4 linked regions of the Homo sapiens genome follow. The protein of the gene in region 2 purifies or fractionates together with the protein of the main gene of each other region. This does not show direct contact. Each region holds a gene or a part of one and is shown on either strand. Other genes may lie near its edges.

Region 1 (4,132 bases), on a different chromosome or scaffold from region 2:
CCACTGGCACACACTACCCTGCACCCAGCTAATTTTAGTATTTTTTGTAGAGAGAGGGTCTCATTACGTTGCTTAGGCTGGTCTCCAACTCTTGGGCTCAAGAATCCTCCCGTCCCAGCCTCCCGAAGTGCTAAGATTACAGGCTTGAGTCATCGTGTCTGGCCCTGTCATTGCTTTTTAGTTTTCAAACATTTTTTAAAAAGTAAATCTGGCCGGGCACGGTGGCTCACGCCTGTAATTCCAGCACTTTGGGAGGCTGAGGCGGGTGGATCACAAGGTCAGTAGATCGAGACCATCCTGGCCAATATGGTGAAACCCTGTTCTCTACCAAAAATACAAAAATTAACCAGGCATGGTGGTGTGCGCCTGTAGTCCCAGGTACTCAGGAGGCTAAGGCAGGAGAATCGCTTGAACCTGGGAGGTGGAGGTTGCAGTGAGCCAAGATGGTGCCACTGCACTGCAGGCTGGGTGACAGAGCGAGACTCCATCTAAAAAAAAAAAGTAAATCTCTCCAAGCAGTAAGAGTCATGCAACCAAGCTACTGAGTTTCTCCCATGAACTTGTCTCGGAACATAGTGGAAAGTCACAACCATTAAAGCCTGTAGTCCCCCCCACCCTTGCACAACGTGGCCCCCTCTTATGCGTGCCTTACCCTGCAAGGCAAAGATGAAGGCTGTAACTGTGGTAGGTTGTGAAAGCACTTTGAAGGTAAAAGTGTCTGTTGTTACTCTGAAAACTCCTTTTAAACGGCTATAATAGCATATGCCACATGAGCAAAGCACAGAACCTTATAACTATGCTTGCTTGTGGAAAGACATCCCTTGTCCACGGGCCAAGTATTTGAAAATACCACTCCATATAGCTCCAGGGCCCTGAGAGAAGCTACCGTGGCAGCTTTGGGAAACCAGCCACCCTTGGCTTCACTTTGATCTTCCTCAGTCTACATCCTTGTTTCAGTTCCTTTGCCACAGACATACAATTACCAAGTACTATATTGCTTGATAATAACTATAATTACTACAAGGACTGCCTGAGATGAAAAAGACAGGTGAAATCGAACTTTCACATGGACTGGTGTCTGAGCTGGAGAGTCTGTTTGAGTTTGAGTAGGGGAAAGCCTGAAACCCCCCACCACCTGCTCCCGTTAGTCCCTGCATTAACTAGGGGCGGACTGGGACCTGATCCTCCAAGCTGGAGGCTTGAAAACTCAAGGGCAGGCGCCTGGTCCAGCGATTCGGAAACCGAGATGCAAAGTCCTCCCGCGCTCCTAGAGAGGACCCGGAAGCGCGGCGCGGTCCCGGAAGACGAGGTGGTGACACGCTTCCGGCCTTTGTGACTCATTGTGTCTGTGTCGAGGCGTCGGGAGGGCCTAAGTCCGTGTGCGGTGCCCTTCGGCCGGCCTGAGCCCCAGAGTCAGCTCCCCTTTCTCGCCCAGCGCCCCCAGGCCGCTCCCGGGGCTCACGGTGAGACTTGGGGCCGGCCTCTGGGGTGGGAGGGCGGGGCCGCAAGGGTGTGTGCGCGAGGGTGGGCTCCGCAGCTGCGGCCCTGGGACCCCCTCCAGGCGGCCCCGCTGTTGTGCGAAGAGAGTCCATGCCCCTGCCTCCTGGCCGGGCCCGGCCGTAGAAAGCGCCGTTCTTCCTGGGAGACGTCCCCGCCCCACCCCCAGGATCAGGCGGGGAGGGGGCGAGGGTTTCAGTGGCTGAGGGTGCCCGGAGACCCGGGGAGAAGCCGTCTGTGGGCCCCTCTCCCGCAGTGTCGTCATCGCCCTTTGACGTTTCTGCAAACGGGGTCGCGAGCGAACCGACCCCGGTCTTGATTTTTCTGCTCTCCCTTAGTCGCCATTTGCTTTGATTCCGGTGAGGTGTCTTTTTCCCCCCCCGGTTCCTTCGGGACCTCGAGGTGAAATGAGCGGAAGGATGAGAGATGGACACATTTTGAGGTGCCGCATACGTTTCCAGACCTGCCTTTCCTTCTCCCACCCTCATCACTGAGCGGTGATTAAAGAGTATTTGAAGCCTAGTCATAGTGGATAAATAGGTGATTGGGATCTAGTAGAGATTATATACACCCCACTCTTTCAGCTTGATGGAATGCTTTGAAGGCTTTGGAAAAGAGCTGTCCGGGACGTTAGGTGGATTTTTCAATTCTGGATAGTTGCTCTGTTTGACATGGAGTGGGGTGAGAAGTGAAGGGAATTTGTGGAAATTGCACTGTGTCACTAGGAGACTGATTAGCTGAGTGACCTTGGATAAGACGAGACACTCACCAAGTCTTAATTTCGTCATCAATAAAAACTAACTGGATTTTCTCAAAAGGCCCTTCCGACTTCGAAATGATTTGGTCAATGTAATTGAAGAATTAACTACAGTTTAGCTTGACACTCCTCCATCCCTCCCCTCCCTTTCCTGCAGTGCCCCCTGTACACAGTAAGATACTTTCATTATAGAGAGTGGCTGTTCCATGGCCTGGGACCAAAGAAAGCATTTATTGTACGGGCCAGTGCTAGGCGGATTGGAGGCGGTCAATAAATACTTGTTGAATTGAATTGTGGAGAATTCATTGTAACCACATCAGCAAAGCACTGTTAGTATATATGCTGAACAAATGTGGAGAAATCGCTGTTTTACATAGGAAACCATGGTGATTTGCCCCAGAATGTGTATCCAGGTTTGTATCTTCTCTGAATTAACATATAAGATTCTTGTTTATTATTTCAGGCAGTTTTCACCACTCTTAAAATACAAACGAGGAAGCTAGCTACTTAGTCTTTTGCTCATTCTCGATTTAAAAGCATTTAAAATACAGATGAATAGCATATTAAATCTAACATTTTCATTCTGTGGGAGTATCAATATTCTTTGAATAGCTAGCTGTCTTTTAAGGTAGCTTTTTCATATTAAAACATTTGATTGCTCTTTAAAAAAATGAGTGTAAAGGGCAAAGGGCAATTTATTTAAAAAAAAATTTTTTTTTTTTTGAGACAGAGTCTTGCTCTGTCGCCCAGGCTGGAGTGCAGTGGTGCGATCTCGGCTTACTGCAACCTCTGCCTCCCGAGTTCAAGCGATCCTCCTGCCTCCGCCTCCCGAATAGCTGGGACTACAGGCATGTGTCCCAAGGCTTGGCTGATTTTTGTATTTTTAGTAGAGACAGAGTTTCGCCATGTTGGCCAGGCTGGTCTCGAACGCCTGATCTCAGGCAGTCCGCCAACCTCAGCCTCCCAAAGTGCTGGGATTACGGGCGTGAGCCACTGTGTGCCCAGCCTTTGTTTACATTTTCAAGACTATGCCCTGGAAAAATACTGGGCTGTTTGGAACACAGCCTTTGAGCTTGTAACTTCAAGCCGTTGTTTAAGAAAATCATTTCTGTTTATCCTAGGTGAGAACTGAGGTATCCTTAGCTGCTGGAGGTAATTTTATTTAAAGTGGATGGTATGTCAGTATGTTTTTCAGCCCATATTCACCCAGAGGTAGTTTCCTACTATCTGGAACCCCCACCCTACCCCCATTTGACTGATAAAGATACAAAATGCCAGAGAAGTTAAATACCTCTCTCAGGGATGTGCCACTTACTTGTGGGAGACTAGAATTCAGTTATTGCCTGTGCAGCTTTCACTATTACAGGAGTTGTCCCATTGCTTAATCTTCTAAGCAGGCTGAAAATTGGAATGTACAGTTACATCTTTTAAGCTTATTGAAAAAAATTAAGACATTTCTGTAGTGCCTACTAAATGCCAGGCACTATTTTAAGTGCTTTATATCTATTACCTCATTTAATCCTCACGGCAACTCTATGGGACAAATGCTGATTTTTATTCCCATTATACAGATGAGGAAACTGACGCATAGAGAGGTTAACTTGTTGACTTGCCTAAGGCCGTCAACTAGTAAGGGGTGGAGCAGCTTTAATGCTAACCTGAAACTCATCCAACTAGTCCATGGAACAAATTTGAGTGCAACATTGAATGTAGAATGATCGGGCTTTTAAAAAATAGTAACGTTGTCAATTCAGTCAAGTGTATTTTTGAAACTGAGGCTTGCAAGGAATCATGCTAAGTGGTCTAAGGAGTACAAAGAGGACTGCTCTTAATAATCTAGTTGAGGAAGAAGGCAAGAAAAATTACAGAGAAAGAAAC
Region 2 (3,324 bases):
ACATCCATCACCAGCCAGCTATGTGACTCAGAGTAAGTCACACCTCTGGGTTTCAATTTCTCTAGAACAAAATGTGAAAATTAGATTAGATGAGGCTTAAGTACCTAGCAGCTCTAAATGTTCTTGTATTTGAGGTAAGGTCAGAAAAGTTATGCTCCCATAGAATTTATCCTATAGAGCCCCATTAGGTGAATGAATGGGTTTAGGGATGTAAACTTGGGTGGTTGGGGTCAGGGGTATATGCTACTTAAATTAAAATGAAACATTAAAATTAACTTCTAAAAACTGAAATTTAAGTACTTGCCATCAAACTAGAAATTTTGCTTTCTCGTGACGTATATTCTCGTAACATGTAGGTCTTGTCAGCCTGTATTTAAAAATAAACAGTTGCAATAAATTTAATTATACTGATTTACAAAATCCTTTGTATTAAAAACAGACTGCCTACATTTTAGGATAGGTTGTCAAAACAGCATGCAGTCTAAAGAGAACATCTTGTTCTACACTGAGATAACTCCTATTTAACTCAAATTGGATTATTATTTCCAATTTCTATACATTATAATGATGATACACATATGTAAACAGATTTTATAATTACCATGTAAGAGAAACATAGCAAAGATTTTACTTTGAAAGAATATGTATATAAATGAATAATGTATATAATGAATTTGTATAAATGAAATATGCAAGAGATTTTAAAATTACTTCAAGTTTGAAACATCTTTCCCTTAAGCTATCTTATCATTTACCTACGTAATTGTGCTACTTTTATGTTGCAAAACATGCTTTAAAATTTTTATTCTTTCCCATTCCATAAAGCTCTTACCAAATAGCTTACTTAAAATCACCTTTTTTGTACTTCAATTTTTCCCATTTAAGATTTTTGGTTAGGTTTTAGAACAGCAACTTATTATAATTTACTTCTTGAAACACTTTTCAATAAAAGAAAAGCCACAAAATTATATGCCTTTAAGGTTTCACTCTCTTGTATTAATAAAAACAGATTAATAGTCACTGTAGGAAAAAAATCAAATAATATAAAAGTATAAATCATCAGTGATCACAGCTTATAGGTAACACTATCTTTAATACTTAGAAATCTCTACAGAGAATCTTATGTAAGTAGATTCATACTTGCTTTTGAAAGTTCAACACTGAAATGAATATCTTTCAAAATTACTTAAATATCAATCTCTGCAACCAATTTTAATAATTATATATTTTATACCATATGGATATAAACAATTTAATTAATGGCCATTTAATGGGCATTAAGTTCCTACTTTCCTTCCTTTCTGCTATTATAAACAATACTACTGTGAATATTCATGTACGTATAACTCTGAGTAATTGCCCAATTAATATTAGTAGATTATTATATAAAAGAATCTTTTTAGGATAAATTCCTAAAATTCAATATTGTTTAATTAAAACAGTATTTTTAACATTTAGGCCAGGAGCGGTGTGGCTCACGCCTATAATCCCAGCACTTTGGGAGGCCGAGGCAATTGGATCACTTGAGGTCAGGAGTTCAAGACCGGCCTGGCCAACATGGTGAAACCCCATCACTCCATTAAAAACAACAACAACAAAATTGCCAGGTGTGGTGGTGGGCGCCTGTAATCCCAGCTACTAGGGAGGCTGAGACATGAGAATTGCTTGAACTCAGGAAGCAGAGGTTGCAGTGAGCCAAGATCGCGCCACTGCATTCCAGCCTGGGCAACAGAGCAAGACTCCATCCATCTCAAATAAATAAATAAAAATAAAATTTAGATTTCTCTTTCTGGGGAACAAAAATATAGCTTATGTTTAGTACTTTGCCACCACTTTTAAAAGAAAAAAGGTCTATCACTATAACCATGTTATTTCAAGAAAAAATCCCTAAGTGAAGGGTTTAGAAAGCATCAATCCAATCCTATCCTACTAGGTTCAAATTCCAATTCTGCCACCTACTAACTGTATAACTTAGGTATGTTTCTTTTTTTTTTTTTTCTTTGAGACAGGGTCTTGCTCTGTCACTGCAGCCTCAACCTTCACCAGCTCAAGCAATCCTCCCACCTCAGCCTCCCAAGTAGCAGCTAGGACTACAAGTCCGTGCCACCATGCCTGGCTAATTTTTTGTATTTTTAGTAGAGACAGGGTTTCACCATGTTGGCCAGGCTGGTCTCGAACTCCTGATCTCAGGTGATCTACCCACCTCGGCCTCCCAAAGTGCCGGGATTACAGGCGTGAGCTACGGCGCCCGGCCTTGGCCTGATTAATATATTAATGTACTTCCTGTATATTAATGTACATCAGGACATTACATAAACAACATATACTGTAAACAAAGGTAAGAGTTAAAGGACAGTTTTCTTAAACATGGATTAAGTACATACAAAATTGTCTCAAAAGACCCCTCCCCAATTAGGGAGTGTCTTTTAGAAAACATTTTGAGTCACCAGAACCTTTGTAAAAGGAAATGTAATGTTTTGATGATAGCCTGCAGTCAACAGTGAATGTGAAACACTCAGACTTAACAGTTAGAAAGACTGCCATATAATATAGATTGTTTAATTTCAAATTCTCAGATTGACAATTAAACAACACAAACAAGCCCAGTATCAATTAGTATATTCATTAAACAACAATAAATACCTCATGGTAAAGTCTCGTGTCATTCATTCTGATAAGCACCCCATCAATTCTCAAGAAAAACCGCAACAGCAGGAAAAAGCTAGAAGGCATTACTCTCTGGAAAAAAAAAAAAAGGTACATTAATATTTTAATAAAAATTAAACATTTTATTACTTTGCTGAAAGAAAAAATTTGAAAACAAAAAACAAAAAAACCCTGGAATAAGGCTGAATTCACAGTTTATAAAAATCTCTCAACTAGAAGCTCTTTGTCCTAGCTCCAACTAGCCTCAAAACCTTGTGCAAACTATTTAACATCATAGTTTCGGTTTCCTAAAATATTTTTTCTAGGTGAGGAGATATTGAGGTTTAAAAGACTTAAAAACATACCCAAGTAATGTAAAAATTATAATGTTTATTTCAAAAAATGGCAGGTACTGATAGTAAATGTCAACACCAATAAAACCAAAATGAAAGAACAACCTAGTTCTTTGTCACTACTCACCTATTCACTTTACATAAAACAAAGCAACAGACCTTACACAGAATGCTCTAATTCAGTGCAACCTGTAGGCACTATTACATATTGCTAAAGACCTGGTTTATCAGAACACTATAACACATTCTTAACATCTTTCATCTGTGGCACATCTACAAATTCCTCTGCTTTCCAAGTATAACTACTAATGATAGGCAGAATCAG
Region 3 (3,500 bases), on a different chromosome or scaffold from region 2:
AAACTTAGCTGCACATGGTGGTGTGTGCCTGTAGTCACAACTACTTGAGAGGCTGAGGTGAGAGGATTGCTTGAGCCTGGTAGGCAGAGGTTGCAGTGAGCCGAGATTGTGCCACTGCACTCCAGCTGGGGCGACAGAATGAGACCCTGTCTCAAAAACAAGATTTTGAGTCTAGGAGACTTCACTGTTATTCAGGGCATTTCTCACTATCTTTACCTTTTCTTCCTTACCGAGAACATCACCAGTGGCCATGATGTCACATGTGTACATAGCTGCCATCAGGCGCTGAGGTTTCACTTGCAGTGCATAGCGACATGCTTCTTTCATGGTGGCAATTAGCTGTCCTGAGAAAGGTCCATAGCAGTCAGTGAGTGGAGATTCTCCTTTCTGTGATGTCCTCTTCTCAAAGGCCTCAGAGCAGCCATCTTGTAGCTCTTGGTTTTCATTTCCACCAGAACAGGTTTCATTTTCCTCCTGTCCCTCTTTTGCCAGATCACTTGCTCCTTGTTCCTCAAATTTACTTAGGTCCCATTTTTCCAGAACAAAACAGACACCCATGAGAGGCTCCTCACACATGGGGCCAGAGAGGGTTGCTAGTTGGAAGCCACTCACAATGCTATTGCCCAAATCTCGGTATCTACTGGCTTCTTTTGAAGCTTTGTCAGCTGGACCTGTCCATACTGAGTTCTGAAAATCTTCACTTTTATTGACTAGTATGTTGGGCCCACATTTTCTTGGGCCAAATGACCAGATTTGGTCAACAATGTTCCTCCATCTTCTCCCTGTTAGGTGTTGCTCCAGTTTTCCTTTGAATTCCCAAATTTTCTCTTGGGTCTTCTGATGAATCATGTGAGTATTTTCACCCTCATTCAAAGAGGATGTCAACTGCTCCATAGAACGAATCAAATCACTATTTTCTTCCAGAATCTGGGTGACTTCTTCTGGAAGGGGCATGGCTCGAACACTGAGCGTGGCAAGTTTATTGGGAGTTGTTATGGTGATTAGCCCGTCAGAGTCAACTTGGATTCCTTCAGGGATTTTGCTTTGATCTTCTTTCATTTGGTGTATGACTGCAACTTTTTGCTGTTTGCCTATTTCTTCATTGACCATGTCAACTTTTGGGGGTTTTGTGATTGTTTCTCTGAATGGAATAATAGGTTCAGATACACTGATATGAATCTTTGCAAACCTACAGACAAATTCAAGAGAAATAACAGAAGGTTAAAATCAAAATAGCATCAAAGCTCCTGTGTAGAAATTACTACACAGTGGAGATTCTGTAAAAACATAGGAACATAAAAATTATCTTACTATGAAAGATCTGCAATTTACATTATATAACATTCAAAAACTGCTTTCTTTCTGATTGAAAAGACTACTTCTAATGGGAATATACCTCCAGGGAAATCCTTGCATGTACTGGAATTTCACTTTTTTTTTTTTCATTTTCAAGATATATAAACCACCCATTTAGATAAGAATGTTTTGAGCAGAAAATAAATGTTTTAATATATGAAATATGAATGCTTTAAAACAGTATTTGCCCATCTAAGAGTGTGGAGAAGAAAAGCTCAATGATTAAAACTCTAAATAGACATAGAATCACAGAACCTCAGGATAGCTAGTCAAATCTTCACAATGTATTTGGCTTTGATAATGAGGCTTATAGCAAGGCTAGCATGATCCATGAGTTTGTCTAGAGCAGCACTTTCCAAAAGAACTTTCTGCAATGGTGGAAATGTTCTATATGTTTATTGTGATTGCTGAGCCCTTGAAATGTGGCTAGTACAGCTGAATAAATTTTTAATTTTATTTAAATTTAAATAGACACATATAGCTACTAAGCATTTGAAATGCGGCTAGTATGACTGAGGAACTAAATTTTTAATTGTATTTGATTTTAAACAGCTGCATGTGGGTAGAAGCTACTCTTCTGGACATCATAGGTCTTGAGCCCCAGTCTGCCACCAAGTTCAGAAAGCCCCTTTTCCCACATAATATCAAATTTGATATTGTTGTATATTGTATATTTACAATCTTTTTGTATATTCACAGGATATACAACAAGATGGACCCGACATTGTATGTTTTTAAAACTACTTTGATATTCAAACCTGACAAAGACAGTATATATACACAAAACTGCAGTTCAATCTTACCTAAGAATTCAGATATAAAATCTAAGATAAAATAACAAAAACTATGGATATGCAGGTGTGTGCATTAAAAAAAAACTTATTATGTATGAGGCACTGTGTTAAGTGTTTTACATGTAGTATTTCTTTAGTAGGCACTAGTACTATCTAATTTTGTAGAAGAGAAAACCAGATAAGAAAGATTAAGTAATTTCTCCAAATAGTCTGTAAGTGAAGAAGCTAGGATTCAAATTTAGGTCTGACTTCAGAATTCACACTCTCAGTCATTATGCTATACTGAAAAATGAAGTTACTCAGTACATTAAAGGAATAATTTACTACAACACTACGAAGTTTGTATTATAGGTTATATGAAAATTAATTTGTATTAGATCTGTTAATACCACATTAAAAATATCAAATAATCTATGTAGCCACTTTTAAATATGCTAAATTGGCATTCAATAAGATTCAATACCTATTCTTGATTTTAAGAAAAAAGCCACTTAAAAATCTTAGGAATAGGAAAATATTTCTAAAATTATCATTACATAGAGAAAAATATGCTCATATACTTAGAACACTCAAGAAAACCAACGGCAAAGCTTCTGAAACTACGAGAGAGAACACATCTACAACACTGCCCTCTTATTCCTGTAACATAGTCAAAAGAGCTATGAGCCACTTTAGTCCTTCTAATTCCTGAGGCTCCCAAGAAGTCTCCTGTAGTAATCATTTATATGATTAATTAAAACCACTCCAAGCTGTGGAAGGAAGTGTGTGATGGTTGCCACACTCACAAAGCACCTCAGGACCAAAGGTTCTTTAAGTCCTAGCAATGCAGAGCCTGTGATGACACTAAAAAAAGTGCGGTAGGCTCAGGCTACATCATGGCAATTTCCTGTGGCTTCCTGCTCTGATTATTACTACCTTGAGATCTGGATGCTAAGAATTCTGACAGTTTCTCTGGCCTGGAGACAATATAGTCTCCTTGTCTCCCATTCCTGGACATAATCCATTCCTGAAGATGTGTGTAGAAGTTGAAAAAGATTATATACTACCAAAAGGTAGGCTCTGTCCTATGAGAACTAAACAAATTCTATAACATTATACACATTCTTAATGTAAGCATAATTGTGAAATGTAATAGTCATATAGAACAGTGCACAAAACAAAAATCTACTGATCTATGATAACTTACCTCAAAGTGAACACCCATGTAAACTACATGGTATAGTCAAGAAACAGAACAGTCTTAGCCCTCAGAGGGCCCCAATGCCATTAAGTATGAAGGTAACTGCTATCCTGATTTTTATTGTAATAGCCTCCATTTTTTTTAAATCACCTAACCATGTAACCCCTTAT
Region 4 (3,322 bases), on a different chromosome or scaffold from region 2:
AAATAGGTTTAGTATTTGCTGTCTGGAAACATTCTGATTAGTGTCTCCTGGGAGGATTATAAATTTATAGTACCCAAAGATAAACTGTTGTTTCCCTTTCCTAAACTTTTAGTGATAATCAGTCTCTGCCGTGTCTCATTTTCATCACTTGCCCTCCAAGCTCCCATCTCACTGAATTCTTGCAGTGTTCTGAATGTTGAGAGCCCCAAGTGGGTCTTATAACAGCCAGTCAGCAACATTTCTGTTTTTCATCTGACACCAAGGGTCTCGTCTCTTTGCTTTTCTACCAGTTATTCTGGGCTCTTCAGCTCTAAAGAAAGTATAGGTCCTGAAATCTTTCCCTACCTTCTCAATTTCCTGGGGAGGGCTTCTTTGGAAAGTGGGATTGGAAATAAGATAAATTTGAAGATAATTGAGAAATGAATGGAAAGTGAAATTGAAGGGTCCATGTTAAGAGATTGCAAGTTATGCTATCACCAAATAGATTTTTTGTGCCTGAGAGGATTAATTCATAGTGCATATTATGTGTTGACTTTATCATTGAGGTCCTGGCACATGATAGCATTGGCATGATATAATTTGAGCTACTGATACTATAGTGTTGCTTCTGGTGTTGTTACCAGAACATCTAAAATATATTAGGATTTTTTTAATGGCAGAGGAAATGAAGACTAATATGACATAGTCCTTGTCCTAGTGATTTACAGTTTAGCAAGACATACAAGCAAAACATTAAAGTAAAGCATGATAACTACTTTAATAAAGCATTTTTTAAATTCATTGGTAACATAAGAGAAGGTAGAAGAGTTTAGCAAACCCTTCCCAAAAGAAATGATTGACAAGTTATATGAGATAATAATTCAGGGAAAGGAAATTCGACTTTCTAAAGCCAAATTATTTGACATTGGTTTTCATATAGCTTGGTAAAAGCTGTTATTTTCTCCCATGTTCTTTATTCTTTGACTGTTATAAGTATGATTTGTACAGAGAAATGGCAATTTCAAAACAGAGGGCTTTGATGGATTAATTGCTTTGAATTGATCCCTCATCTACAGTATCTTGTCAGGTACTTGAGAAAATAATGTACTTAAAGTTTCCTCTTTTGACTTTCTTTTGGTATTCTATACTGTAAGTTGGGGAAAAAAGTATTTTCTCTTCCTGCTAATTGGGCTACTTGAAAATTCCCACCAACTTTGCCAATACCAGTGTTCTGTATAACCCAGAATTCAGAATTAGCTGCAATTAAGGGAATTCACAGCTTTTCTGTAGTCAGAGAGCAAATTGAAATTAAAGAAAAAAGAAATAGTGGGAGGACAAATGAGGTTTTACCTTTACACTTGAAAACAGATTTAAGAACAAGCCTTATACCTAGATTTATTAATACTTTGAGGTATGAGAGGGAAGAGAAGCTTAGAAATACGGCAGAATGGGCTTTCTTTGTTCTTCTCCCAGCTATGCTGTTTTTATTTATTATTGTATTTTTAAGAGAGAAGGGAAGTGTCTCTCCTGGGTCACATTAATTAGGAAATACAGAGTGTTTTCATAATGCGTAAAGTCTAGTCCATTTAAGTCTTGTTTCAAAATGCTATTTATATTATTTGAGCAGGAAGGCAGAGACCTTAAACTGCTCCACCCAATTCATTTTACACAAAAGATTAAAAAGAAAAAAACAGTGTCAAAAGGTCAAGTGCCCAGTGTTGCACAACTAATGATAGGCAAAACAAGAGAGGAGGGGAAAAAAAAGAATCCTGACTCCCGACTCCTAGTTCAGTGTGTTCTTCACTGTTAGAAGGTGCTGCTGAACATAGTTATACCATATGAAGATCACACTATCTATTTGAGATTGTAGAAATTTGATTACTGCAGAGCTCTGGCTGGGCTAGATTCACTTCTTATTCTTTATTGCATTGCAGTATTCTTAAGAGATAAATGGCTCTTTTAGAATCAGATTGGCCTTGGCTGTTGAAATGAGGCATTAATTACCTTGGTAGCTGACACATTCTTACAGGTCAGGGGCTTGATGAAGTTTATCTTCTTCCCTTGTTCCTGTGATTGCTCTGTAAATAGAACACATTCAGAGCCCTTGAATGCACTTGCAGCCTGTGCCTCCCACAGTGATCGATGGTCAGATAATGGGAGTTTAATGACCAGTACTGAGAGAGATTATTTCCATGGCTGCTATGGGCCAAGAAAGCTGGGTGGTCAGAAAGGGACCTTTTCCAGACTCTCCTGGGTTGTGTTATTTCTTTGACATTGGTTTCCTTTCATGAGGCGCCAAGGTGTATTTGTAAGTTGTCCAGTGTTGCACAGCTAATGAGGGGCAAAACAAGAAAGGAGGAAAAAAAAAGTATCCTCACTCCTAGTTCAGTGTGTTCTTCACTGTTGGAAGGTACTGCTGAACACAGTTATATGTTCAGTGTACAATGTACAATGTTCTTTGACATTCCGTCATTTGAAGGATGGGTCCTATGGATAGTATCATCTGCATGGTTTTGAAAACAAAAGATATAAGCTAATTTTGCCCTGTCTAGTGACTACGAGACAGGGAGAGAAAATCTGAATATTTGTTAAAGTAGACACAGACCCATAAATTGAAAAGGACACTAATCCTGCCTTAGGAGACAGTAAGGCACTTGTCCCTGCTATCTATTAGCTGTGTGTCCTTGGACAGCTCATTGCTTCTTTCTGAGCCACCGTTACACGTTATCTATCAAGTGAGCAGGTTGTACACTAGATGAATTCACAGGTCCTTCTTCCAAGTGCTTTTCTAATCTTCATAATTTAGATAATCTCTCAGTAGCAAAACAGTGTACAATATGGTCAATCTGAGATTTTTAGGGGGAGAATTTTAGGGAACATCAGAAATGGCAGTAGTTAAAAGGAAATAGGACTCACAGGCTGACTTCTCTCTATAACTTCACATGGTAGAAGGGATGAGAGTTCTCTCTGGAGCCTTTTGTATTAGGTCACTAATCCCAAAGGCCCCACCTCCTAAGACCATCACTTTTGGGATTGGGGTTTTAACATGATTTTAGAGGGACATAAACCTTCATCTCATTGCATTAGAGATATTTGAAAGCTCAGCTCACGTGTATTCCTCCACAGCTCACATGTATTCCTCCATCACCCAACCTGATGGCTTTGAACGTTGTAGACATAAATCCTTTCATCATTATCAAGAATATTGCCAAAAGCTTCTCAGAAATTATGAGGGGTTTTTTTAGTTTCTAAAATATTCTCAAAGAAAGTCCCATGTACTAATGTTTGCCTTTTGATGAAAAAGGATGAAATCTTAATGATTGCCTTAATAAGCTCAACAATG

The links. Proteins that work in one complex are often made in the same cells at the same time.
Region 1: the proteins of TIPRL (region 2) and ZKSCAN1 purify together in Homo sapiens (affinity purification with mass spectrometry, with the first as the bait; one large-scale study listed by BioGRID). This does not show direct contact.
Region 3: the proteins of TIPRL (region 2) and EFL1 fractionate together in Homo sapiens (co-fractionation; one large-scale study listed by BioGRID). This does not show direct contact.
Region 4: the proteins of TIPRL (region 2) and CTSC fractionate together in Homo sapiens (co-fractionation; one large-scale study listed by BioGRID). This does not show direct contact.

The regions. Positions count from the first base shown.
Region 1 is NC_000007.14:100,014,264-100,018,395, forward strand, and holds the start of ZKSCAN1 (zinc finger protein with KRAB and SCAN domains 1), read left to right. Parts: upstream 1-1,332; 5' UTR 1,333-1,463; intron 1,464-4,132. UniProt on the Homo sapiens protein: May be involved in transcriptional regulation.
Region 2 is NC_000001.11:168,195,962-168,199,285, reverse strand, and holds part of TIPRL (TIP41-like protein), read right to left. Parts: intron 2,740-3,324; coding exon 2,644-2,739; intron 368-2,643; coding exon 305-367; intron 1-304. UniProt on the Homo sapiens protein: May be a allosteric regulator of serine/threonine-protein phosphatase 2A (PP2A). Isoform 1 inhibits catalytic activity of the PP2A(D) core complex in vitro. The PP2A(C):TIPRL complex does not show phosphatase activity.
Region 3 is NC_000015.10:82,151,235-82,154,734, forward strand, and holds part of EFL1 (elongation factor-like GTPase 1), read right to left. Parts: intron 1,190-3,500; coding exon 231-1,189; exon of another isoform or gene 217-230; intron 1-216. UniProt on the Homo sapiens protein: GTPase involved in the biogenesis of the 60S ribosomal subunit and translational activation of ribosomes.
Region 4 is NC_000011.10:88,296,415-88,299,736, reverse strand, and holds part of CTSC (dipeptidyl peptidase 1 isoform a preproprotein), read left to right. Parts: intron 1-3,322. UniProt on the Homo sapiens protein: Thiol protease. Has dipeptidylpeptidase activity. Active against a broad range of dipeptide substrates composed of both polar and hydrophobic amino acids. Proline cannot occupy the P1 position and arginine cannot occupy the P2 position of the substrate.